Homo sapiens: one gene and its partners. The protein of the gene in region 1 purifies or fractionates together with the protein of each later gene. This does not show direct contact. Each region holds a gene or a part of one and is shown in the gene's direction. Other genes may lie near its edges. The genes, in order: PEX7, NT5DC1, CORO7, MTAP, FMNL1, IDH3A and PGM1.

Region 1 (3,500 bases):
TCAAGTAGCATGCTGTACAGATAGCCTCACATTGCGATTAAAAGTGGACTCTGCAATTAGGCTGCCCACGTTCAGATTTCATATCTGCACCTTACTAGCTTTGGGACTCTGGACAAGTTACTTAACCTCTCTGGGCCTTGATATAGTATCTACTTCATATAAATGAAGATTAAATGAAATAAAATACATAAAGTGCTTATGAACAGGATCTGACACTCAGAGTGTTCAATAAAGGTTTGCTATTTTTATTTTTGACTGTTTACATCAGCCTAGAGCAGGGGTTGGCAAACTACGTCATGTGGACCAGGACCAAATCTGGCCTGCAGTTAGATTTACAAATAAAGTTTTTTTGGAATCAAGCCATGCGCATTCATTCGGTATTGACTATGGCTGCTTGGTGTGTGCTATAAGAGCTGGGTTTAGTAGTTGTGACAGTGACCAAATAGCCTGTAAAATCTAAAGTATTTACCATATGGCCCTTTATAGAAGAAATGTACCTTTTTTGAAGAAACTTACCATTTACTATATGGTCCTTTGTAGGCGAAATTTAGAGGATAAAATCAAACTCTTTAGCTCTCAAGATCTTCAGTGATTGCTTCCAAACCAGCCTTTTTTCTATCCATAACTAACAGATGGCCACAGCAGCTCTTTGGTTTTCACTGGCCCTTCTATTCCTTTTATAGCTGCTGTCTGTTGCTGGATTGTGCTTCCTTTAGTGTTCCAACTACTCTTCTGTCTTTTGCGTGAATATGGGCAGAGGCAGGGCCAGGACTAGGGTAGAATGTGTGAGGCACTCACTCTAGGTACACAATTTAAGGGGGCCCCAAAAAACTTGATAATCAAGATAATTTGTTAATGTTTTTAAAAATAAAAATTAATGCAAAAAACCCATTATGAACAAAATATCGATATTTTACTTTTTTTGAAGCTTAATATTAATTTTATTAAACTTTTTTCCAGGTTTATTATGATTGGCAAATAAAAATTTGTAGGCTGGGCACGGTGGCTCATGCCTGTAAACCTAGCACTTTGGGAGGCTGAGGCGGTAGGACTGCTTGAGCCTAGGAGTTTGAGACCAGCCTGGGGAACATGGTGAGACACTGTCTCTACAGAAAATAAGAAAAAAATTAGCTGGGTGTGGTGGCACGCAAGCGTGACTCCAGCTACTTAGGAGGCTGAGGTGTGGGAGGACCGCTTGAGCCCAGGAGGTCATCGCTGCAGTGAGCTGAGATTGTGCCCACTGCACTCCAGCCTGGGCGACTGCGCAAGACCCTGTTTTGGAAAAAAAAAAAGAAAAATCTAAGTTGTACAGCTTAGGGTTTTGATCTAAATATATCTTGAGTAATGATTCCTACAGTCAAGCTAATTAACATATCCATCACTTGAATGGTTACCATTTTCTTGTGTGTGAGATAAGAACATTTCAGATCTACTCTCAGCAAATTTCAAGTATTCAGTAATACATTATTATTTATAATAGTTACCATGGTGTACATTGAATCTCTAGAAATTATTCATCTTATAACTAAAAGTTTGTATCCTTTGACCAACATATCCCCATTTCCCCCACCCCCAGCCCCTGGCAAACACTACTCTACTGTATGTTTCTCTAAGTTTGACTTTTTTAGATTCCACCTATAAGTGACGGGATCAGTATTACTGATGTTTTTTTTCCTCAGCCTCCAACATGGCTCAATATAGTACTGGGCAGCAGAGAGAAAGTAACCCACATGTAAGCGGCTTAAGCCCAGATACTCATACTTCCTACGTATATGTGGGAGAGAGTAGTAAGATTCAAAGTAACCTGCTGGCTGATCACCAATGTGATATACCAATGGCATATACTCAGGTCCTTGTCAGGACTAATTTCATAAAGTATAATTATGCACATATTTTGTTGAACTTAGTTTACAGCAGTGATCTGTGTATAATCTGTTGTATAAAATGAAAGAATGAAAACATTTCCAAAAGTTTTCAAGTAGTTCATTTGAAATGGTTCACTGAGAGCAGTGAAGCATATACTTTAGAATAGCAGCATTGGATAACTAAAACTGTTTACCAAGAGATCTGGAAGGATCACCTGGTTCCTGCAAGCTTTTTCTAAGAAAGGCCAGATAGGGATATTAATTGAATTTTAATGCTTTCCAATAAACATTGACCCAGCAAGCTTTTTTAGATGACTAACTTTCTAATCTGCTTTGACATTTCTTCGTGGGGCTGCAAACAGTGATTTGTTGGTAGGTTTTAAAATATGTATAATTTGTTTTAGTGAAGAAGGTTTGGAAGTATACTGTAGAATTCTGTGAAAGCAGAATGGAGTCTTATCTGTAAGGAATAAGTCTGGAGGAATGGACAAGATCAACTTTTCATTTCTCAGACACCTTGTTGAGATGGATAGGAATTATTTGATGTTTTGACATAGTAAATTAGTTGTTCTGCCTCTCATTGTTATGTAACAAGAGATAAAATGCAATGTTGAACTTGATGGTCTTTTGCTTTCTAAACACTTTTCAATGTTTTTAGGTGTATAGTGTTGATTGGAGCCAAACCAGAGGTGAACAGCTTGTGGTGTCTGGCTCATGGGATCAAACTGTCAAATTGGTATGTTAGCATTATTGTATTCAAAAACGAATATTCCCTTCTCTAGAGCTTCCACTAAATTTTCTTCTCTTTTTCCAACATACTTCTGTAGCTCTATGATTCGACAGCTGAGCTTTCTTTTAAAAAAAAAATTAAAACACTTATTAGAACTTAAAATTTTCTAATCTTTTGGCTGTGAACTAATAGTTAGCTCAGCATTAGTTTGGCCCTTAAATACAGTCTTGCTTTATATCAAAACAGATCTTTAAAAATCCTTGAGATCTGTATATATATTGTATGCATATATATAAATGTATATAGTTTATTGGTGTATGTAGTATATGTAAAAGCATAAATTTGAATTTATCCCTCAAGTAATTGATCTATTCATTTATTTGTAGTGGGATCCAACTGTTGGAAAGTCTCTGTGCACCTTTAGAGGCCATGAAAGTATTATTTATAGCACAATCTGGTCTCCCCACATCCCTGGTTGTTTTGCTTCAGCCTCAGGTAAATTATTCTGTATTTACCAAAAGCCTTACTTGTAGTGAATGGTGGCCTTGTTTTTACCATTAGGTGGCGCTGTGTACCTTAGCTTCAGAGAGAAAACAGGAGAATATTACTATTCTTTTGTGTTCTTAAGACTTTACTTCTTTTTTTATTTTTATTTTTTTATTTTTATTATTATACTTTAAGTTCTAGGGTACATGTGCACAACGTGCGGGTTTGTTACATGTGTGTGCATGTGTGCCATGTTGGTGTGCTGCACCCATTAACTCATCATTTACATTGGATATATCTCCTAATGCTATCTCTCCCCCCTTCCCCCACCCCATGACAGGCCCCGGTGTGTGATGTTCCCCATCCTGTGTCCAAGTGTTCTCATTGTTCACTTCCCACCTATGAGTGAGAACATGCGG
Region 2 (3,500 bases), about 21 Mb from region 1:
TAATAACTATTTACATAGCATTTACATTGTATTGGATATTAAGTAATCTAGTGATGAATTAAAGTATACAGGAAGATGTATGTAGGTTTAATGCAAATATTATGCCATTTTCTGACTTGAGCATGCACAGGCTTTGGTATCCACAGGGGTCCCCTGCAGTTACTGAGGGGCATCTGTGATTGGAGTCCCAGGAGATGAGAGAATAAGTGAGATGAGAGAAAATGATGGGGAAAAAAATAAGCCAAAGGTTTAAGAAGCCCAAAGAAATGAAACAAAATGAAGAAAAAATAAATTCAGAGTTAACTGCTAAATGCCAAAGATAATTAAATATTAAAAGCAATCAAGAGCATAAATATAGATTAAATAACAGATTGACATCTGACTTATCAGAAACAGAGGAGAGTCAAAGACAATAGAATGATAGCTTTAAATTGCTGAAAGAAAATGATGTGAATCTTGATGGAATTATATACCCAGTTAAACATTGTAAAGAATAAAAGTAAAATATTGGCCGGATGTGGTGGCTCACGCCTGTAATCCCAGCACTTTGGGAGGCCGAGGTGGGCGGATCACCTGAAGTCAGGAGTTTGAGACCAGTCTGGCCAACATGGTGAAACCCCGTCTCTACTAAAAGTACAAAAATTAGCCGGGTGTGGTAGCAGGTGCCTGTAATCCCAGCTACTCTGGAGGTTGAGGCAGGAGAATTGCTTGAACCTGGGAGGCAGAGGTTGCAGTGAGCTGAGATCACACCACTGCACTCCAGCCTGGGTAACAGAGCAAGACTGTCTCAAAAAAAAAAAAAAAAAAGTAAAATATTTTTAGACAGGGAATAATAGAGAAAATGTATGTCCAGAAACCTGCACTAAAGGAAATAAAGATTATTATTCTCCAGGTACAATTAAAAATAATTCATGTCAGAAGACTGGAGATGCAAGAAGAATGTATATAAGTATATGGTGTAAGTATATGAATAAAAAATGAATGCTTACTGTTTGAAACAATAAAAATTAAAGTCCCATGGGATTTACATAGAGAATTAAAATGCCTGACAGTAATGGCATATATATGCCAGAGTGGGGCAGCAAAAATTAACATGTTCTAACATGCTAGAATTAAACAATTAAGGATAAGACTATGTTCAGTATTGATGTCAGAAATGCATGTTGTAATCTCAAAAATAACTCTCAAGAGAATTGTGATGATATACATATACCAAGCTAATATGTAAAATAATTTAAGAATCTAAAAGAAAACAAAGGAGATGAGAGAATATTAAGAATCAGCAAGACGGCCGGGTGCGGTGGCTCACGCCTGTAATCCCAGCACTTTGGGAGGCCGAGGCGGGAGGATCACCAGGTCAGGAGATCAAGACCATCCTGGCTAACACGGTGAAACCCCGTCTCTACCAAAAATACAAAAAATTAGCCAGGCGTGGTGGCGGGCGCCTGTAGTCCCAGCTACTCAGGAGGCCGAGGCAGGAGAATGGCATGAACCCGGGGGGCGGAGCTTGCAGTGAGCCGAGATCGCGCCACTGCACTCCAGCCTGGGTGACAGAGCAAGACTCCGTCTCAAAAAAAAAAAAAAAACAAAACAAAAAAAAAAAAAAACAAAGAATCAGCAAGACAAATGGAAAGCATTTAGTAAAATGTTTAATTTAAACCTGAAGTAATTACATTAAATGTATGTGACCAAATACTCCAATTAATAGCCAATTTTAAAAAAATAACAATACCCGGCAGGGCACGGTAGCTCAACGCCTTGTAATCCTTGCACTTTGGGAGGCGGAGGCGGGCGGATCACGAGGTCAGGAGATCGAGACCATCTTGGCTAACACGGTGAAACCCCATCTCTACTAAAAAATACAAAAAATTAGCCGGGTATGGTGGCGGGCGCCTGTGGGAGGCTGAGGTAGGAGAATGGCGTGAACCCGGGAGGCGGAGATTGCGCCACTGCACTCCAGCCTGGGCAACAGAGCAAGACTCTTGTCTCAAAATAAAAATAAAAAAATAAAAATAACAATACCCAATTATAAGTTGTTTATAAGAGATATATCTGAGACATAAGGATTCAGAAAGTTTGAAAGTTTAAATATCAAAAGACGGACGAAATAATACCATGCTAACAGTAACCAAAAAAAAAAAAAGAGAGAGAGAGAGTGGCTGCATTAATATGAAACAAAGTAGATATTAAGGGGAAAAATGATTAGCATGAGAGAGATCACTTCATAATTATAAACTCCTAGTTCTCAGAACTATATAACTGCCAGTCTAAGATACTCACAAAGTCCCCTCTCCTCTCTCAGGTCAGAATTTAATCTTTCCATTTTCACAATACCAAGAAAATGCCTAAAAAAGAAAACATCCACTCTCCTTTATAGAGGCATATGCTTTCCGCTTGGATTCTTAGTTTGCAAATTTCCTTCAGCATTTGGCAAAGGGTTTGAGGAGACAACCAGCAGAGTCCAGTTCTCTGACCCTTCCTTTACAGTGGTCCTAGCCCCTCAATTTTTGTCTCTGCAGCCCTGCAAGACTGTCAAAATCTCTACTGGTTTTTCTGCTGCTTGTAGTAGCCCTTACCACCAGCCAGAATTCCAGCACCAGAGGAGAAAAGCTGAGGCTTAGTGTTAGCTCCTCTCTCCGCTGGTTCCTCCTTCCCAAGAATTGTGCCTCAAGTCTTGGTTGCCTCTTTAGCTCTCTGGTGACACTTCAGTCTCGTGTTTATATTTTATCCAGATTTTCCAGTTGAAGTTAGAAGTCTAGTTAATTTTTTTGAACTTCCGATTCTTCTTCCTTAAATTGAAGAAAGTTGCCATGTTGTATGTATTAAAATTCTTATTTAGCTAAGCATTTGAAGATTATTCTTAGTAACCCTCATCCTGTGACTATGAAGAAGATTATTAGGTCTCATTCACCAGTTTTACATGATCCTCTGAGGAGGGCCTGGGAGTTTTTTTTAAATTTTTATTCAGATAAGCTTTCATATTTTTGTATTAACTTCTGTGCAGAGTATTAAAATTAAACTCACATAGAGCTCGGGATGATTTGAGATATCTCTAAATGTGATTTGACTTAAACATTATTATAAATTGCATAGAGAAAGATATCTAACTCTTCATCCTAAGTGACCTTTGATAGACCTTTTCTGTAATATGGGAGAAAGAATAAAATTAAATTGTTTTAAATGAGATAGGAAGTGAAAAATAACCTGGTACATCCCTTTTGCCTCTTAAAACCTTTTTATATTCAAGTAATGTTTCTATACTTGTGGATATTCTGTTAGACATGGTTATCTCATTCACATTTAAATGCCTAGAAGCCTTTTTTATAGCTGTTGTAAAAGTTTGTCTTTATTAGCCATATGTATTACAATGGTGGTTGGTTTATACACATTTTTAACCTTATAATAATAGCTACACACAGACCTACTGAAGGAGCAAAAGAAATATTAAAATTTTACGTCTAAAAAATAAGTTTTATTAGTGAATATCAAGTTTTGATTTG
Region 3 (3,500 bases), on another chromosome or scaffold:
GGGATTACAGGCGTGAGCCAGCATACCTCGCTAATTTTTTAATTTTTAATTTTTTGAAGAGCCATGGTCTCATGATGTTGCCCAGGCTGGTCACAGTGTTGACCTACTGGGCTCAAGTGATTCTCCCACCTCAGCCTCCCAAAGTGCTGGCTGGGATCACAGACATGAGTCACTAGGCCTGGCCTAGCCTCTTTTGCTTGAAACGCACCGTCACCTTTTCATTGCTCGTCCACTGGAGGCAGAACTCCCCCTCCCCACATGCACCAGGCCCCTTCCCGTCTAGCCTCCACCTGCCCATCCTGAGCCTCAGCCCTCACCCACACTGTCCAGGCTGTCAGGCACATTGTCCATCTTGTTCCTCAAACAGGCCATGAACCCACCTGCCACAGGACCTTTGCACAGGTTGTGTTCTCTCTGAAACTCTCTTCCTGTGAGGTGTTTGATTTCTGCATGACCTTGGGATCGCAGGGATCACCCCTTCCCCCACTGCTGAGGCCCAGTCCCCCTGCTCTGTCACTGTGTGTCCTCGGTGAACCTTCCCTTCACATGTTTGTCTATGGGATTGTGTCTGTCTGCCTCTTGTGCTAGGCTGTGAGCACCTTGAGGACAGAGGCAGGGTCTGTTGCACTCATCTCTGGGCATACCTACATGCAGGTCGAGCCGAGGACCAGGCACAGACCAGCTCATCAAAGGAGTGAATGATTGTGAACGAATGAATGAGTGAAAGCCCTGTCAAAGCTGCTGAAGGGACTTGCTTCCAGCCCCAGTGGAGCCAGTGTCAGTGTGGAGGGCACTCCAGGTCACGCACCACCTTGGTCCCCTACCCTCCGCCTCCGCCTCCACCTCTACAAGCAGTGGTCAGGCCGGGATGCAAAGGGCATTGCTGAGCCCGGCTCACCCTGCTGGGCCCTCAGTAAGTAGGGGCCTGTGTTACTCACAGGTGACCAGCCCAAGGCACTCCAGGAAGTCATGGAGACACCCAGGGCCCCACCCAGCTTCCCAGCCACTCTGTGGCTCCTGGAAGTGTGGGGAGGGGAGGTGGGCAGGACTGCTTAGTGGTCGGCTGGCAGGAGGGGATGGGTGGACAGTGGAGGGCGGCTGGGCCCTTTGTCACCGCAGTGAGGGATAGAGGCAGCTGCCACAGCTGGGTGACCTCTGACCCTGGCAACACAGTGGGGACGGGGTCCTGTTTAAGGGTGTCAGTGTCTGGGTTGGGAGGGTCCAGGCCTGCAGGTCCCAGAAACAAGAAACCAAGACCAAGTGCAGTGGCTCATGCCTATAATCCTAGCACTTTGGGAGGCTAAGGTGGGAGTATCACTTGAGGCCAGGAGTTTGAGACCGGCCTCGGAAGCATAGTGAGACCTTGTTTCTACAAAAATAGAAGTAAAAATAGCCAGCCATGGTGGTGCACACCTGTAGTCCCAGCTACTCTGGAGGCTGAGTGGGAAGATTGCTTGAGCCCAGGAGGTTGAGGCTGCAGTGAGCAATGATTGTGCCACTGCACTCCAGCCTGGGTGACAGAGGGAGACCGTGTCTCTTAAAAAAAAAAAAAAAAAAAAAAGCAAAGATCAGGAGCAAGAAACACAGGAAGGCAACTGGGCATCTGGGCATCTGTCAGAGTCCTTCCAGGTCCCCATTCCCCTCAAAAGGCCCTGGAGTGGGAAGGCAGCTCTCACAGGGCTGAGGGGCTGTGCAGGGGTCTCTGAGGGGCCCCGGGAGGGAGGCATAAAGCCCGGCCAGTGACAGGCAGTTGGCCAAGGCTGAGCTGGACATAGAGTGGCAGGGGCTCTGGGGGCTTCCGGCCCGCCCACTCTATTCCCAGCTGCCACCCCGCCCTGCTCCTGCCTCGAGACCAGAGAAGGCCTGGGAGCATGCTGCTGGCAGGCTCGGCCGGGGCAGCAGGCCTGGGGTGTGCAGGGAAGCCCAGCGGCCGGAGGAGCCCCTTCTCCCGGGCACGTGGCTCAGATTTGGACACAGGAACTTTAACTCAGCATGGGGGGGTCTCTGAGCTTCCAAGATATCACTGAGGCACAGGAAACGTGGGGTAACTGAGTAGAGGGCCCCAAACCTTAGTGCAGATTCGGAACGGCAGGGCTGCCTGCACTGCTCCCGGATGCTGCCTGTCCACAGGCAGTGCCGAGTGGGGACGGGAGGCTCCTCGCCTCCGGCCTCACCTCTCCACCTTCCCTGGCAATGCTGGCCTGATGTCTAGGCTGTCGAAGGTGGGAGGGGCACAGAATGCATGTGGGGTCTTCTTGGAGGAAGAGCTGTGGCTGAGATCGGGCCCGAGTTCCCCTGTGCCCACTCCAGTCCTGGAGTGACGCAGGTGTGCAGGTGGAGGCCCTGGGGAGGAGCAGCTGGGGTGTGGGCGTGTGTTGGGCATGTGGGAAGCTCAGGAAGAGGAGGGGGTTCCTGGGGACCAGGCTGAACATGGCTGGATGGCCAAGCGGCTCCCAGTCACTGTGGTGCCTGTCCTGGGCTCCTACATGGGGTTACGAGTCTGGCAGCCCTCCCACTGCCCTGACCCGCCATCTTGCCCTCTCTTCCCCAGGTGTCTCGTGCCTCTGCTGGACCCTGACTCTGGGCTCCTGGTCCTGGCAGGAAAGGTGAGTGAGAAGCTGGGGCTCCCACCCACATCCACAGCCTGGAGTCCAGCCCCTGGCCTTCCCCAAGAGAGAGGAGGAACTCGAACAGGGCCTCTGTGTCTTCCCCTGTGCAGCCAAGGTGACTGTAGCTCTCCTAGAACACTGGCCTTCCTGAGAACAAGGCCGAGAATAGAGCAGTGTCAGCACACAGTCAGCACTCCATAAATACTGACGTACACCCCCGGTGCTCACCCCATGTGCAACGAGGCTGAGCAAGTGAGGTAGTCAGCCTAGGGCTCAGCTCAGCGCCCAGCATGTTGGGGAGCCCCATCTCCAGCCACTGTGGTTCTGTGGCTCAGGTCCTTGGGGACCTGTGGGGGAGCTGATGCCAGTCCTGGGCCCTCCCCAGGGGTTCAGTCAGCAAACGGGGCTCAGTTCAGACTCATTTCAGGGCGAGAGGCAGCTGTACTGTTACGAGGTGGTCCCGCAGCAGCCGGCGCTGAGCCCAGGTAAGCCTTGCTTCCTCGCCCCCATCCCCTACCCTCCCCTCCCCTGCCCATCCTGCCTGTTCCCCTATGGTGTCCTCAACAGTGACCCAGTGTGTCCTGGAGAGCGTGCTGCGTGGGGCTGCCCTTGTGCCCCGGCAGGCGCTGGCCGTCATGAGCTGCGAGGTACTCCGCGTCCTACAGCTGAGCGACACAGCCATCGTGCCCATCGGCTACCATGTGCCCCGCAAGGTGAGGGGGACTTGGGCGAGGGACTGCGGGGGCTGGGGAGTCGGGGGGCCTGGGCCTCACTAGCTGCCTGCTTGTCTGCGGCCAGGCTGTGGAGTTCCACGAGGACCTGTTCCCGGACACTGCCGGCTGTGTGCCTGCCACCGACCCCCATAGCTGGTGGGCTGGGGACAACCAGCAG
Region 4 (4,121 bases), on another chromosome or scaffold:
AAGGATTCCCTGTCTCCTATTCCTCAAAGGAGCACCCGGATTCTACTTTCATTCTTCTTTTGCCATTGCATTTTATAACTTAAAAGAAATAGATGATTGTAACAGAAGAAAGAAAACTTTACATTGTGAGAAAATTTAGACCTAAAGCTTATAGTAATGTGAGGACGAAAGTCTATACTGTTTAAGTAAATAGGTTCTATGAGCAGCATCCAGGCTAACATCACACAGTGGTATTTTGAATTAAATTGTACTTGTGTTTTGTTTCCGTGTTTTGCTGCTGTAAGGAAAGAGGAAAGCATCCCCTTTCTCGGCCCTCCTCCCACGTCCAGGCTAATTTGCAGCATTTCTACATCTCAGAGTCCACCCTTAAGATCCTTGCCACCCATTATTTTGTTTCAGAACGCTTAATCCATCAAGGAAGGTTAAATTGGATTACCCCAGTAGGGAAGGGACGGGGGCTGTAAGCATGAGGGATTATCCCTGTAAAGGGCTCGTGGTGTGTGTGTGTGTGCGTCCTGCTAGTGTTGAATGACGGAGACCTGAGTTTGGATTCTGAATCCAGGTGTATTCGATGCCGCTCCGGCGTAGAACGGGTTAAAGATGCCCCCAGCCAGGTAGAGCCAGACTGGGAGTTGTGCAAGGTCTCAACCCCCTAAAAGCGGCCCCTCAAATTGAAGATGAGTAAATCATAGTTCGTAAATCAGAAAGATTATCCAGTACTACGTTACTCTGTTTATTTCCCTTTCGTCATCCCTGAGTCTTGGGTCAAGTCCATCCCAGCTCTGTCCTCCAGGAATCAAGGGAAATACGCAAACCCGCGGTGGGTTCGCAGCCGCAGGAAGGACAAATCTTGCCCCCGCCGCGGCGGCCGCCCCGCGTTAGCTGCCTAAGAGAATCTCCGTGGCCGGCCAGTACCCGCCTTGGTGAGGATTCTCCCTCCCGCGAGAACTTCTGGAATGCCGCCGGGCCAGATTTTGCAGCTGAGGCCTCCGACGCCACTAATATTGGGCCAAGCAGGGAGTGCTGCTCTTCCTTATAAGGTTTTAGCGAAAGTTAAGTAAGCCAATTAAAGTGCAAAACACACAGTCTGGAACAATACAGCGCTCTATAAATGGTCTCCATTATTATCATTATCCGTTAGTTATAACTGGGGATAAAAAAAAAAAAAAAACGACAAAAACCTGGAGAACCGGAAAGGTCTGCAAAAGGGGCGGAACGCGGGAACTTCGATTTGGGGAAGGGGTGGCGGGGGAGATCCCACACAAGCAGCCAATCCAGCTGTCCCGGGGAGGAAGAGGAGGAGTCAAGGCCCGCCCCTGGTCTCCGCACTGCTCACTCCCGCGCAGTGAGGTTGGCACAGCCACCGCTCTGTGGCTCGCTTGGTTCCCTTAGTCCCGAGCGCTCGCCCACTGCAGATTCCTTTCCCGTGCAGACATGGCCTCTGGCACCACCACCACCGCCGTGAAGGTGAGATGAGCCCTCCCAGCCGCAGCGGTTCGCCCTGCCGGATGCCTTCTCGCCCCCGCGCCGGGGGACCGCGCCTCCGGGGGCCATGCGCCCGGCCCGTGCGTCCCTTGCCGCCGCGGGGAGGGACTGGGGCGCGGCACTCGGGACTCACTTGCCGCGCGAGGAGAGGGTACGCTTGCAAATGATCCCCCTGCCGCACCGCCAACACACACACACACACACACACACACACACACACACACACACACACACACACCACCTTTTGGCTTATCTGCACCCGCACCCTGTAGGGCGTAGGCACCCCTTTAGAGAGAGAGGTCGTGGATGGGAGAGGCTGCACCCATGCCACCACCATTCCTGAGAACCACTCTTCTTCCAAGAAAGACACCCGGCTGGAGTCAGGAGGTGTCCGGGCGCCTGCAGCTTCTGTGACCGTCTCCTGGTGCCTTGCGGGACTCCAGCTTCCGCTCTCTGACTCTGCTTGTTGCCTGCGGCCCACGTGGGAGAACTGCTTACTTGCTCTTTTGTATGCTTCCGGCTTCTTTTTCCTCCAAACGTAGGCCTTCTCCGCGCTGAAGTTTTCCCCAGCAGCGTAATACTGTAAGAATTCTGAGACTTTCTTCGAAAAGGAGTACAGGCGTCCGTTTTTAGGGCTGCACTGTTTGGAGGCCTCTGGCTTGAAACTGCTTTGTTTTGCAGCCTTGCAAGTTAGAGTTCAATTTCCTTGTGCCCTAGGCCCTGAGAGGCCTTGATACAAGGGGTCATTGTGCGGTGGGAAGCTTTGTGCTGAGGAGGGCACGAGTTCTGAGAGTAGCAGCTGGCTTCCCTGGGGTTTTAAACACTTCTCTCCTGGTTAGTATTCCGAGAGAGAATTACAGCACGTAAAGAAAAATTGATGATAAAACTTAAGACCTCTTCTAGGCAGTTTATTACTGGCTAAGAATGCGTTCTTGTTTGATTTTTAGAAATTTTTGGCCTATGGGATAGGAAGGTCTGCGATCTTCTCCAAAGCATCTCGATTCCCTACACTCGACTGCAGTTTTCCCGGGAGAAGGCGAATTTCTGCGGTCAGTGTGTAATCAGCCAGATTAGTTTATTACGCCCTTGCAGGTTTAAATGAGCCACTTAGAATGAGAGGAATGGTGAAGGGTGTTGCATCCAGACTTATATATGAAACTTATTTTGTCATTTTGAAAAGAATCTTGCATCCAGCAAATATTTATAGAAGGCCTCTCCCCTGCCTTCATTGTTTGGCGGAAACAAGGCAGAAATGGTTTTCATGAAACTCGTGTGAAGTATGTGACTTCTCTTAGGTGCTCATCTATAAACTGAGAATTTTACTGCAGAATTTGCTAGGAGGGCTAGAATTATATTGTCTATGTTGCACATGGTAGAAGCTTATTAAGTGGTAGTGCTTATAAGTGGGGGAACTGAGATTAATTTTGAATGATCTTTTCCCCAAAAATTATTAAGTTATTGTGTTAGGTATCATTAGGCCACAACTTTTCACCTTATCCTTGCAGGAATACACTTCAAGCGCCATTAAAAATGGAGAAATGGTGTTTAAAACAGTCTTACTTTAATCTGGTTAGCATTCTCCCTGCCACAGGGTTTCCCTTCAAATTAATGCAGTGCATTTAAGTGCAGAATGGGCAATGGGATTCTCAGAGACCTGATGTAAATATTGAATAGTGTGTATTTTTGGTCTTGGCAAGCTTCTGGATATAAAATTAAGAGGTACATATGGTGCTAGGACTGCCTGCTGATTTCTCTTTTAATTTAGAACAGATGACAGCTTTGCCGTAGAGATTCCATGATGCCAGCACCGTATTCCCCAGACTTCTAAGGCAACATTCTGTATAGAAGATGTGAGGTGCCAGTGTCCAGAGCAAAATAGGTTAATAAAAACCACATCCTATTCCCAAATTATAGAATGATGGGGCTGGAGTGTTCCTTCAAGACCATCCATATAGCCACACAAACCCGTTTTGCGGGTGTAAAGTTGAGGCCCAGAAAGGTCAGCTAAGTATCCAGAATTACACAGCTGGACCTAGATAATGACAGAATTGGGCCTAGAGCCTGGCATTCCACCAACTAGATGTGAGGCATTTCTGAAATCTGAAGTGTGGTCTCTGCCCTGTTTTCTTGTGACCTAATGCACAATTAAAATGAGCACTTGATAGAATGTCCATCTTGAAGAGGGAGGCAGAGGGTATGCAGAAAGCAGGCTGCCTCCAGTGCCCACTGCACACCACCCAGGTATAGGTATAGGAGGCACATGTGTGTCTGAACCCCATTGGTGTCACTGGCAGGTCCTTTGAGAGGTTGCTGGATTTAAATACAGTAACATGTAACACACTCAGCCCAGTTCCAGGTACTCCTTTAATGTCAGCCCAAGTACCTCTCTTCTTAAAATAGAGATATTAACGGGGTGGATCTTAAATTCATTCTCAATTTTAGAGGTGCAGTTAACTCATGCAAGTGAAAGATTCCACTGAGTTTTGGATTGGCAGTATATTTGGCATATCTTTCAAATCTAGCCATCTACTGGTGGAATCCTATTCAAAAATATTTATTGAATACCTGCTAGACAATGGGGATGCAGCTTTGAGTAAGCGAGGCCTTTATTTATTTTCTTCAAGTTTATATTCTAG
Region 5 (3,500 bases), on another chromosome or scaffold:
CAGGGAAGAGCATTCCAGGCAGAAGGAACAGCATGAACAAAAACTCTGACATATTAGCACAATGACAAGAAAGGGTGATGTGGCAGGAGGGGGTGAAGGCGGGGCCTCCTGGTATTACTGGGAATGTGATAGAATCATCAGAGAGACTGACATGTGGAAGTCCCGGTCGGCAGTTCTGCAACAATGAAAACATCACACATTTGTTGGCGAAGAATAAGGGAGTACAGTCATATAGCACTTACTATGTGCCAGGCACTGTTCTAAGCCTATTCCATAGTCCCAACAACCCTGACAGGAAGCTACTATTATTAGCATTCCTATTCTAGAAGCGAGGAAAGTGAGGGATAGGGAGATTAAGTGACTTATCCAGTAAATGGTGAGCTGGGATGCGCCTGAACCCTGGCAGTGTGAATTCAGATCTGCGTCTTACATTGGAAGATGAGCCCAAGTGGCCATGAGCGCCACCTTGTGGTGATCCTTCCCATGTCTCTTCCTTCTATAGACCCTCACCCTACCAAGTCCCTGGGAAGTGTCTTTGCTTCTGTGTCCCCCCTCCTCCAAGCATGCCAGACCCCAGGTCTAAGGACTGAGGAAGCCTGCCTGCCCTCAGCCAGCCTCTTTGGTTGGGTAGATGGGATGTGGTGCCGTCAGGTTCCAGATGTGCCTCCTCTTACCCCAGAGGCTGAGTGGTGGGGAAACAGGAAGCTGGGGCTCACTCTGACTCCTGCTGCCTCCTCCACACCCCGCCCAGGCTGACCCCAGCCCACAGCAGGAAGGCCCTGCGGAATTCCCGCATCGTCAGCCAGAAGGACGACGTCCACGTCTGTATTATGTGCCTACGCGCCATCATGAACTACCAGGTCAGCCGAGGGGCATGGGACTGGCGACTAGGGAGCCCAGCCTGTCCTCACTGGGGGCTACACAAGCTGCCGAGGCTCTGGGATCCACTGTCCCTTTACCCTGTGCTGTGCTGGGGAACTTGCGCATCTGGGCTGTTGGCTCAGGCTTTTAAGGCTGATGAGTCTTGAGGGGAAGCCCATGTTTTTGCTGCCTCTGTCAGGTTCTCTGAGTACCCCTGCCCATGGCTGGGCATGAAGGAGCCTCACATAGGGACTGGGCTCACCTACCAAGAAGGGCTGGCCGGAGGGCCAGGGGAGAACAGCCTCGGGTCGATTCATTTGGAGGGCTGATGGGTGAAGCTGGGTCCTCCTTTACTTAGCCCGCCTTTAAGCCAGCTTCACGGTTTCCAAGGTGCCTGATGCTGGCTTTTGGAAACACAAAGGTTTTTAAAAAGAGGCCAGGTGCAGTGGCTCATGCCTATAATCCCAGCACTTTGGGAGGCCGAAGCGGGAGGATTGCTTGAACCCAGAATTTGAGATCAGCCTGGGCAACATACTGAAACCCCATCTCTATGAAAATAAAAAAATAAAAAATAAATAAAGAGAGGCCAGGCGTGGTGGCTCATATCTGTAATCCCAGCACTTTGGGAGGCCAAGGTGGGCAGATCACCTGAGGTCAGGAGTTTGAGACCAGCCTGGCCAATATGGCGAAACCCCGTCTCTACTGAAAAAAATACAAAAAAAATCAGTTGAGTGTGGTGGCAGGTGCCTGTAATCCCAGCTACATGGGAAGCTGAGTCAGGAGAATCACTTGAACCCGGGAGGCAGAGACTGCGGTGAGCTGAGATGGCGCCACTGCGCTCCAGCCTGGGTGACAGAGGGAAACTCCATCTTGAAAAAAAAAATAGAAACAAGGCCAGGTTTTGGTGGCCACAGAAGTTGCGGTTGGATACAAAGAACTTCCTAAACTCGAGGGCAGTTAAAGATCCACGTGGCGTGGGTGCCTGAAGTCCTGGGGGGCCCTTCCTGGAGACACTGACCTCTCCTCTCTCCCCAGTCTGGCTTCAGCCTTGTCATGAACCACCCAGCCTGTGTCAATGAGATTGCTCTGAGCCTCAACAACAAGAACCCCAGGTGAGGTCCAGGCCCCAAACCTTTCTCCGTATCTAGAGTCTTCTCCTACTTAGCCCCTTGCTTACTCTGTCCTCCAGGTCTCAGAGGCTCATTCTGCACCCACTATGCTCCTCCTAGCCAGGCCTGTGCCCACCCTTGCCGCGGGTCCTGCCTGTTCTCAAGGGACAACCTGCCCCTTCTCTCTCCAGAACCAAGGCTCTGGTGCTGGAGCTGCTGGCGGCCGTGTGCTTGGTGCGGGGAGGACATGACATCATCCTTGCAGCCTTTGACAACTTCAAGGAGGTACCGGAGTCCCTCACCCAAACATGCATTTCCCCCTATGGTGTTGCTTGGAGTCTTGTTGTTGGCAGTTGTGGCCTTTGCTGGAGGCAGCTGGGGACATTGGGTGGGCATTTGGGGAACGCCCAAAAGTTGAAGTTGAGCCACATCACTGGCTCAGCAATCTGGGATGGGGAAGTTCTGAATGGAAGGTACAGGGTCAGGTAAGGGCACCACCTGGGTGGGGGTAGGGACAACTACAGGGACCTGCTGAACCTCTGACTCAGCCTTGCCAGATCCAAACTAGCCTTGGTTCATACCTCCAGGAGTTGCGGACTCTGGCTAACAGGCTTGCAAGAAGTAGATGTGTGGGGCTGCATAAGATGCATAAGACAAGATATCTTCATTCATTCATTCCTTTAATGAATATTTATTGAGTGCCTACTATGTGTCAGGAACAGGGCACTTGGGCACATCAGTGAACAAAGGAAACCATATAGGGAAAGACAGAAACGATATAATAAACAAGCAAATTACATAGTATGTTAGGAAATGATAAATGCTGTGAGAAAAAAGCCAGCAATGTTGCAGAGGGAGGGGGAATTGGTTGCAGGGTGGTCAGGGAAGGCCTCACTGAGCAAGTGAGATTTCAGCAAAGCTGTGAAGGAAGCAAGGGACTTGGTGTGGGAGTGAGGGCACTCCAGGGAGTTGGAACAGTAAGTGCAAAGGCCCTGGGGTGGGAATGTGCCAGGATGCCAGTGTGGCCAGAGTGGAAAAAGTGAGGGAGAGTGGGAGATTGAGAGGGAGTGGAGGTTTTGAGCAGAAGAGTGACGTGGCTCAACTTAGAATTAACTGGAGAGGAGCCTGTTGAAGCACAGGTGTGGCAGCCAGAAGGTAGCTTAGGACGTGTGTCACTGGGCCTCAGTGAGAGCCATTCCCCTTACCCAGGTGTGTGGGGAGCAGCACCGCTTTGAAAAGCTGATGGAATATTTCCGGAATGAGGACAGCAACATCGACTTCATGGTGAGCTCAGGAGCCCAGCAGCCTGAGGCCTGGGCCAGGCCCTCTTGGGTGCAGGGAGCAGCTAGGGTCCTGGGTGCTGGGCAATGGGCTCTGCCCCCGCAAAGCGTAAGGACTGAGTGGTCAGTAGGGGAAGGGTGGATGTTGGCAGGGGGCTGGATTGAGGGAACATGGAGGTGAAATGTTGGGCAGGCCAAGGCTGGGAGTTAGTGGAGTGAGAACTGTGGAGAAGGAGGGAGGCTTGGGGTA
Region 6 (4,175 bases), on another chromosome or scaffold:
GGGGTTGATAAAAGCCCTCCTTCCTGACAAGGCCACAGACTTAGCTGCAGTTTATTATTTAGGTCATAAAAGCTCTTGGGATCACTTCTCTACTGCACTCATCACCTCTCTGGGTGGGTAGGCAGCTCCTCTCTGGATAGAACTCTTCCCAGGGTAGGGTAGCAGAGACCTGGTTTAAACACCTGACCTCCCCTGGCACCCAGCTAGAGGCCTGGCCATCAGCAGGAACTCAGGAGTTTGTGATGGACAGGGAGAGGACAAGGGGAAAGGTGAGTATGGATGTTATTTCTTCAGAGAAGCATTCCCTGACCTCCAGGTTAGGTTTGAATCAGGTTGCCTGATTTTGCCTTGCCATAGCTCCTTGCTCTTTTGCTTCTTGGCGCAACAGTTTTAATGACATGTGTGTGACACTTGATTGAAGCCTGTCTTTCCTACTGGACACTAAGCCCCAGCACTTAAAACAGTGCCTGGTGTCTAGTTGACCCTCAGAAATATTTGTTGAGCTAAATAGACAGATTAGTAGTTGCCTGGGATTGAGGACAGGAGCGGGATTGACTATAAACGGACACAAGGAACATTTTCATATGCTCAAAAACTGGATTGTGGTGATGGTTGTGCAACTGTTTACATTTACTAAAAATCATCAAACTGTACACTTACAGTGAGTAAATGTTACTATATATACATTATACCTCAATAAAGCTGGTAAAAAATAAAATTCGGCCAGTCGCAGTGGCTCACTTTGTGAGCCTGGGGCAAGCAGATCGCTTGAACTCTGGAGTTCCAGACCAGCCTGAGCAACATAGCGAGGCCCCATCTCTACGGAGAAAAAAAAAAAAAAAAAAAAAGAAAAAGAAAAGAAAAAACAAAGTTGGGCTGGGCTTAGTAATTACTTGATCCCAGGAGGTCGAGGCTTTGTAGTGAACCTGTTCGCGCTACTGCACTCCAGCCTGGGCGACAGAGTGAGACCCGGTCTCAAAAAAAAAAAAAAAATCAAAATTTGTGGAATAAGAAAATTATGTGTCTTTCTCCACGGGATTGTAAATTCTATGAGGAGCGCTATATCCCCAAGATCCTAGAACATTAATCAGCACCTAGTAGGTGTGGAACAAACGTCTTACCTTAACAGCGAGTCAATGAACCAGGGAGGGGAGGAAGAAGCTTTCCCGGAGATGCCGGCCCCTCAGTTTCCGGGTTCGCCTGGCGCTCAGCCAGGCCAGTCACAGAGAGACGAGCCCGGCGATTCGCCAGCGGAATGTCCAGGGGCGGGGCAGCGAGCGAGCGCGAAGCAATCCTGAGGCGGTCTAGGGGGCGGGGCGTTCAGGGGGCGTGGCCGTGCAGGGGCGGGCTCCGAGCGTGGGGTGGGCGCTTGCGCACTGCCGCTGCGGCTGTTGCTGCGGAGCCAGGAGGGGAAGCGATGGCTGGGCCCGCGTGGATCTCTAAGGTGAGCGCTGGCAGGCCGGCGTGTGGCAGGCAGGCAGGCCGCGAGGGCTGGCAGGAGAGCCGGTCGCGTGCCGGGTGTGGGCGGGCGCGTGGGCCAGACAGGGAGGCGGTGGCTGCCCGCGGGGACAGCTTGGGAGCCGGTCCTGGTCGCCCGTGCCCCGCGCTCCGTGGCCGGCTCGCAGTGTATGGGCCGCCCCGGGCCGGGTCAGCAGCGCAGAGGCGGGGACGGCGTCAAGGTCAAGGCGGGGGGGCGCCGGCCCTGCTCCTGCCGAGACCCGGCTGCCGTCACCCGCATCCGCCCAGGCCAGAGCCCAGGCTTCGCGCCGAGCCCGGGAAGGTCACGGGAGCCTCTGTCCCGGCTCCGCCATCCGGGCCGCTTCCCCGGCTGCGGCCCTGCTGCGGGACTGATCCCCTCAGCACTGCCCACACCTCTCATCCGCTGTCTGCGCGGCCCTTGGCCGGGGAACCGCAGGTGCCACGGGCACTGGCGTTGAGCTTGGGAGGTTTTCCCAGGTGAGAGAATCCGGGGGCCCTTTTCCCTATCAGATTGTTTTCCCTTTGGCGCTCTTCCCAGTCAGACCTCTAGTGCTCTTGTAGCTATTTCCCCTTCATAGGATAGGGCATCTTACACCTCGGAATTACCGTCTGAACCTTCGGAGAGAGAGACCAGCAGAGCCTTCCTTTTACCTTTCATTGGTGGGAATCCTGCAATCTGGAGCGCTTTAGCTCTCCTTGACAGCTCAGATGCCAGAGCTGGAAAGGGTTTCAGATCATCTATGCAGTTCCGTAGCTTCTCAGTGGAACTAACCTGTGCCTGAAGAAGAATTTGCTCAAGGTCACACAGGAGGTCGGTGTCAGAGCAGGGAGAGGAACCTAGGTGTCTTGGTTCCCATTTCCCAAGGTCACATAGCAAATGATGGTACAGGCCATCAGGCCTCAAGTCTCCTGTTGCTATGAAAGGGTGGTCCCCTAGAAATCTATAAACAATTTAACGTTTTTCTGTAAGTTTGATACTACTTTTCTCCCATTTTTTCGGTTTAAAGAGAGGTCCAGAGATGCACTGTTATTTAAGGAAAAGATCTCTGTACTGGAATTTAGGAGTCTCAGATTTAAATCCTAGCAATGCCACTGATTGGCTGTGTGACCCTAAGCAAATTACTAAACATCTCTAAGCCTTAATATGCCCATCTGTGAATATCTATACTTACATCACAGAATTGTTTGAGTATTAAATAAAATAATGTATGTGAAAGCACTTGGTATGTACAGAAGGAAAACAAAAATCTGAAGCTTTCTTATCAATATGTTTATCTGTCTCCAACAGACAGTGGTTTTCATGGGCATCATTAACTGGTTTTTTTGTTCAATAACTAGATTCTACTTTGTCACCCTCTTCAGACCCAGATTTGCTTGTGATGATAACTCTTATGTCACATTTGCTCCTAAAAGTAAAGCAACTTCTGTGTCACTGTGAAAACTGAACTCAGTCCTTTAATCTCTGAACTTACATTTAACACCCAATTCATCTTTGGTAGGTACATTTGCCTTCACAGTGAGGCACTAAAGCAACACTTGATAATGATTGTGCTGGTAAATCTGTTTTGCCTTTAGTGTGATCTGCATGAAAAAACCCTCATAGTAGGTATTCAGAAAGTGTTGGGTTGTGGAGTCAGAAGATGAGGTTCTCTGACATGCACTCCCTGTGTGACCTTTGGCAGAGTCATTTGACTTCTGGGCCAGCTTCTCACTTTAGGGATTGGAGCAGAAGGTGGCTCAGAGGCTGACCCCAGGATGGTGGAGGTGCTGAGCTGGATGCCGGTTTCAATCAGGACAGTTCCTCTGTTGAGTTTCCATTTCAGGTTGTGGCCAGGCATGGTGGCTCATGCCTGTAATTCTAGCACTTTGGGAGGCCAAAGTGGGCGGATCACTTGAGGTCGGGAGTTCAAGACCAGCCTGGCCAACATGGCGAAACCCCATCTCTACTAAAAATACAAAAATTTGCTGGGCGTGGTGGCGCACGCCTGTAATCCCAGCTACTCGGGAGGCTGAGGCAGGAGAGTCACTTGAACCCAGGAGGTGGAGGCTGCGGTGAGAGGAGATCATGCTCCTACCTGGGTAACAGCAAGACTCTGTCTCAAAAAAAAAAAAGATTTTTTTTTTAAAACCCATCTCAGAACCCATGTACAACACTATTTACATGTTTTTAAGTTAAAAAGGAAATGAGTTGTGGATTAAGATGGCCCACGACCTGAAGTCCAAAGTTCAGGGTTTTGGTCCAGGCTTCATGAACCTGGCCTCAGTTTCCTCATCTGAAAAGTGCCAATAATGCCTATCTCTACAGGTTTTATATAAATAAAATGATGTGAGATATATATATATATATGCATATGAGTATTCTATAAAGTAGAAGTCCTGCCATCTCAGCCTTCCATGAAGCTGGGACTACTGGTGTGTGCCACCATACCTGGCTAACATTTAAAATTTTTTTTGTAGAGGTAGGGTCTCACTCTGTTGTCTAGGCTGATTGGTCAGGTCTTCTGTCACAGAGACATAAGCTAGTTTTGTGTGAATGTCTTTTCCCTCTTTTTTGGGCTGGGAGAGGAGAAAGGACTCATGTCAATTTTTTTTTTTTTTTTTTTTTTTTTTGAGACAGAGTTTTGCTCCTGTTGCCCAGGCTGGAGTGGAATGGTGAGATCTTGGCTCACTGCAACCTCCACCTCCTGGGTTCAAGC
Region 7 (3,500 bases), on another chromosome or scaffold:
CACACCTGGCTAATTTTTATATTTTTAGTAGAGATGAGGTTTCACCATCTTGGCCAGGCTGGTCTCGAACTTCTGATCTCAGGTGATCCACCCTCCTCGGCCTCCCAAGGTGCTGGGATTACAGGCGTGAGCCACTGCGCCTGGCCTATTCCCTAGGTTTCTACGCTCAGGTTGTTCTCTGATTTTGTTCACTCTCTCTACTCACTCGGGATTTAAATATGCTACTCTTTCTCTTGTGATATGATTCAGTCCAGATGGCATCTTCAGAAACCTTTCTTGACACCCCATCCCTACCACTCTTCTCCACCTATTAAGTGCTCCTTTCCCATAGATAATTCTAGAATATATATATTAAATTCTAGTGAAATTTTCCGTTTACATGTCAACGGCCTCCAACTAGAGAGTAAGCTTCTTTAAGTCAGACCTGTGTTTTACCTGTATCTGCAATGCCTAGGACTATGTAGCATTCAATGAATTCTTGTTTATTTGCTCTGAACTGTGAGTCACTTTTGTATTCTAGCACTTGATTTAAAGCCAGCATGTAGCTGGTGACCAATAAATTTATTCACATCAAACATTTATTATGTGCTTGCTTTGCCTCAGACATTGTACTTGAGATACAAAATATTTTTGCCCTTGGGAAAGACATAGTCTGGGAGGGGTGGTATACAGGAGTAAGCAGACAGCACAATGTGTCAGGTGTTGTGATGGAGGGATGTGCAGGTGTCTTTAACCTGAGGGGCTGTACTTGGGAGGGGAAGATGAAGGGAGGGAGGCTCCATAGAGGGGTGGTAGCCGAATTGAGTCTTAAAGAATGACTTGGAGTTCCCAGAGTGGGTTTGTCTGGTAGGAGGAATTCTTAGCAGAATGAATACAAATTGAGGGAGTTTAGATTAGATACAAATACAAATTTCTAGTCCTTTTTTGTTTCATCCACAAAGGTTGGGAATAATACATACCTGAAGAGCCTGTTGTGAGGATTAGATGAAACAACATATTTACAAGTACCTCACTTGGAAACTGTTCGAATGATAGGTGTGTTATCAATGTTTTGTTGGTATTAGGACACAATCCAACGTGATGCAGATATGAGCCACCCAGATGGTCTCCCACCTTCCTCTAATCCTCAACAGCCTCAACCAATATAGAGGGGTTCCGTGTTAGTCAGAGCCCAATTGGGTACAAATGACAAAAACCTTACTTGGATTACTCCAAGTGAAAAAGGAATTTTATTGGCCCATGTTACTGAAAAGTCCAAGAGAATCCCAACGAATTCTTTAGTTGAAACTATTCCTGGTCTCTAAAAATCACTTCTGGGTCTAATGATCTGCAAATGACCAGCATCAGAAATTGAGGAGAGTTTAAGCTCACAAATGAATGTGTGCATGTTTTGAAGGATGATTTATCACCACCCTAAGCAAAATAAAATAAATACCTTTGTGGGAACTTATGAGCAAGGAGGGTATTTGTTGTTGTTGTTGTTGTCAAGTTACAGGGATTCTTTTGTCACGGCTCCTTTGCTACTCATTTGTGCAAACTGTGGAGCCCCTTCTCAGAATATATATTTTTAAAAATTTGAGACATGGTCTTACTCTGTTGCCCAGACTGCAGCACAGTAGCGCGATCGTGGCTTACTGCAGCCTCAGTCTCCCCAGGTTCAGTTGATTCTCCCACCTCAGCCTCCTAAGTAGCTGGGGTCTACAGGTGCATGCCACCATGCCTGGCTAATTGTTTTATATTTTTTGTAGAGATGGGGTTTCACCAAGTTGCCCAGGCTGATCTCGAACTCATGGGCTCAAGCGATCTGCCTGCCTCGGCCTTGCCTCCCAAAGTGCTGGGATTACAAGTGTGAGCCATCGTGCCGGGCAGAGTATTTTTATTTTTAAGTGAATAAAACAAAATACAAACCATTACAAAGGAAGCAAAATTATATTGAAGTATAATCAAAATATTAAAAAACCAGATTTGTGATATATCAAGATAATGCTTCTTTACTGACATAGGAAGATTTGTGGAGGATTTAATACTGCCTTACTTCAAAGTAGTGGTGAGTATAAATGATGTTTTGAGACGTCTGCAATCTCAGTATTTTGAGATAACTATAATAGGATATGAAAATATAATTTTTATTGATGATAAATTCCTAGGTAGTAGTAGTAATAGTAGCAGTAGTAGTAATAATACTGTGGTTTGCTTCCTACATTTATAATAAAAGGAGGTGCTAAATTTCAGTTAGATGTTAGTGAAAATAAAGATTGTTTTGTTTATTTTGTCATTCATATTCATGGATCCCATTGAATTCTACCCAAGGACCTCTTGAGGTAGGGGAAGGGGATGTAAGCATCCCAAGTTAAGAACCCCACACTAAACAATGATCCTTTTTTAGCATCAGGTGATGCCTGCACCAAAATGGACCTCAAACACATGACCCAGAGGTTAAGGGTCTCATGTTCTCAGAGCAAACTAGTGGGACTTTGCAAACTTCGCCTTATAGTGGAGGAACTCCACTGTCTCCCGCTTGAAGTGAACCACCCTTTTCTGAACTTTCATGAGATCCATCTGCAAACACTGCTGAAGGAACATGTTTCTGGCTATAGCAGTTCACATTTCTTGAAAAGGAAATAAAAGAACACTGAGCAGGAAGGGGAAGGTTTTGAGACTCTTGGGTAGTTGGAGTTAGGTGGAGACACCTTGCTACTTTAACTTTAAACCTTATATCCCTGGGGCAGGGATGACTTGGCAGAGAAACACCTTCAAGTCACTTTTTTTTTTGAGACACTGTCTTGCTCTGTTGCCCTAGGCTGGAGTGCAGTTGCAGGATCTTGGCTCACTGTAACCTCCGCCTCCTGGGTTCAAGTGATTCTTCTGCCTCAGCCTCCTGAGTAGGTGGGACTACAGGCGTGCACCACCATACCCAGCTAATTTTTGTATTTTTAGTAGAAACGAGGTTTCACCATGTTGGCCAGGATGGTCTGGATCTCTTGACCTCATCATCCGCCCGCCTCGGCCTCACAAAGTGCTGGGATTACAGGCGTGAGCCACCACACCCGGCCCAAGTCACTTTTTAACATGCTGTAACCCCCACTTTAAAAAAAAAAAAAACCACTTTTTAATTATGGTGGGGCCGGGCATGGTGGCTTACCGCACTTGAGTGGGTCACTTGAGCCCAGGAGTTCCAAACCAGCTTGGACAACATGGTGAAACCCCTTGTCTACAAAAAATAAAAAAACTTAATCTGGTGTGGTTTCGGGCGCCTGTGGTCTCGGCTACTTGAGACACTGAGGTAGGAGGATCACATTCACCCTGTGAGGTCAAGGCTTCAGTGAGCTGTGATTGCACCACTGCACTCCAGCCTTGGCGATGGCAAGACCCTGTCTCAAAAATAAATAAATAAATAAATATAAAATGAATTATGGTGGGCTTTGAACAATTGTTCTCCCCTTGTTTACACTTTCTGATTTTGAATCAGCACTGAATGCCAGTATGGATAACCTATTGTC

Evidence for each region.
Region 2: the proteins of PEX7 (region 1) and NT5DC1 purify together in Homo sapiens (co-immunoprecipitation; one large-scale study listed by IntAct). This does not show direct contact.
Region 3: the proteins of PEX7 (region 1) and CORO7 purify together in Homo sapiens (co-immunoprecipitation; one large-scale study listed by IntAct). This does not show direct contact.
Region 4: the proteins of PEX7 (region 1) and MTAP purify together in Homo sapiens (co-immunoprecipitation; one large-scale study listed by IntAct). This does not show direct contact.
Region 5: the proteins of PEX7 (region 1) and FMNL1 purify together in Homo sapiens (co-immunoprecipitation; one large-scale study listed by IntAct). This does not show direct contact.
Region 6: the proteins of PEX7 (region 1) and IDH3A purify together in Homo sapiens (co-immunoprecipitation; one large-scale study listed by IntAct). This does not show direct contact.
Region 7: the proteins of PEX7 (region 1) and PGM1 purify together in Homo sapiens (co-immunoprecipitation; one large-scale study listed by IntAct). This does not show direct contact.

What each region holds. Positions count from the first base shown.
Region 1 is NC_000006.12:136,843,092-136,846,591, forward strand, and holds part of PEX7 (peroxisomal biogenesis factor 7), read left to right. Parts: intron 1-2,523; coding exon 2,524-2,601; intron 2,602-2,981; coding exon 2,982-3,090; intron 3,091-3,500. UniProt on the Homo sapiens protein: Receptor required for the peroxisomal import of proteins containing a C-terminal PTS2-type peroxisomal targeting signal. Specifically binds to cargo proteins containing a PTS2 peroxisomal targeting signal in the cytosol.
Region 2 is NC_000006.12:116,240,353-116,243,852, forward strand, and holds part of NT5DC1 (5'-nucleotidase domain-containing protein 1), read left to right. Parts: intron 1-3,500.
Region 3 is NC_000016.10:4,364,597-4,368,096, reverse strand, and holds part of CORO7 (coronin-7), read left to right. Parts: intron 1-2,551; coding exon 2,552-2,606; intron 2,607-3,036; coding exon 3,037-3,094; intron 3,095-3,176; coding exon 3,177-3,322; intron 3,323-3,407; coding exon 3,408-3,500. Other genes in the region: CORO7-PAM16 protein, read left to right, coding at 2,552-2,606, 3,037-3,094, 3,177-3,322, 3,408-3,500. UniProt on the Homo sapiens protein: F-actin regulator involved in anterograde Golgi to endosome transport: upon ubiquitination via 'Lys-33'-linked ubiquitin chains by the BCR(KLHL20) E3 ubiquitin ligase complex, interacts with EPS15 and localizes to the trans-Golgi network, where it promotes actin polymerization, thereby facilitating post-Golgi trafficking.
Region 4 is NC_000009.12:21,801,315-21,805,435, forward strand, and holds the start of MTAP (S-methyl-5'-thioadenosine phosphorylase), read left to right. Parts: upstream 1-1,321; 5' UTR 1,322-1,434; coding exon 1,435-1,467; exon of another isoform or gene 1,468-1,552; coding exon of another isoform or gene 1,553-1,636; intron 1,637-4,121. UniProt on the Homo sapiens protein: Catalyzes the reversible phosphorylation of S-methyl-5'-thioadenosine (MTA) to adenine and 5-methylthioribose-1-phosphate. Involved in the breakdown of MTA, a major by-product of polyamine biosynthesis.
Region 5 is NC_000017.11:45,235,385-45,238,884, forward strand, and holds part of FMNL1 (formin-like protein 1), read left to right. Parts: intron 1-751; coding exon 752-860; intron 861-1,896; coding exon 1,897-1,973; intron 1,974-2,161; coding exon 2,162-2,255; intron 2,256-2,633; exon of another isoform or gene 2,634-3,179; coding exon 3,180-3,254; exon of another isoform or gene 3,255-3,500. UniProt on the Homo sapiens protein: May play a role in the control of cell motility and survival of macrophages. Plays a role in the regulation of cell morphology and cytoskeletal organization. Required in the cortical actin filament dynamics and cell shape.
Region 6 is NC_000015.10:78,147,987-78,152,161, forward strand, and holds the start of IDH3A (isocitrate dehydrogenase [NAD] subunit alpha, mitochondrial precursor), read left to right. Parts: upstream 1-1,375; 5' UTR 1,376-1,417; coding exon 1,418-1,444; exon of another isoform or gene 1,445-1,956; intron 1,957-4,175. UniProt on the Homo sapiens protein: Catalytic subunit of the enzyme which catalyzes the decarboxylation of isocitrate (ICT) into alpha-ketoglutarate.
Region 7 is NC_000001.11:63,596,411-63,599,910, forward strand, and holds part of PGM1 (phosphoglucomutase-1), read left to right. Parts: intron 1-3,500. UniProt on the Homo sapiens protein: Catalyzes the reversible isomerization of alpha-D-glucose 1-phosphate to alpha-D-glucose 6-phosphate. The mechanism proceeds via the intermediate compound alpha-D-glucose 1,6-bisphosphate.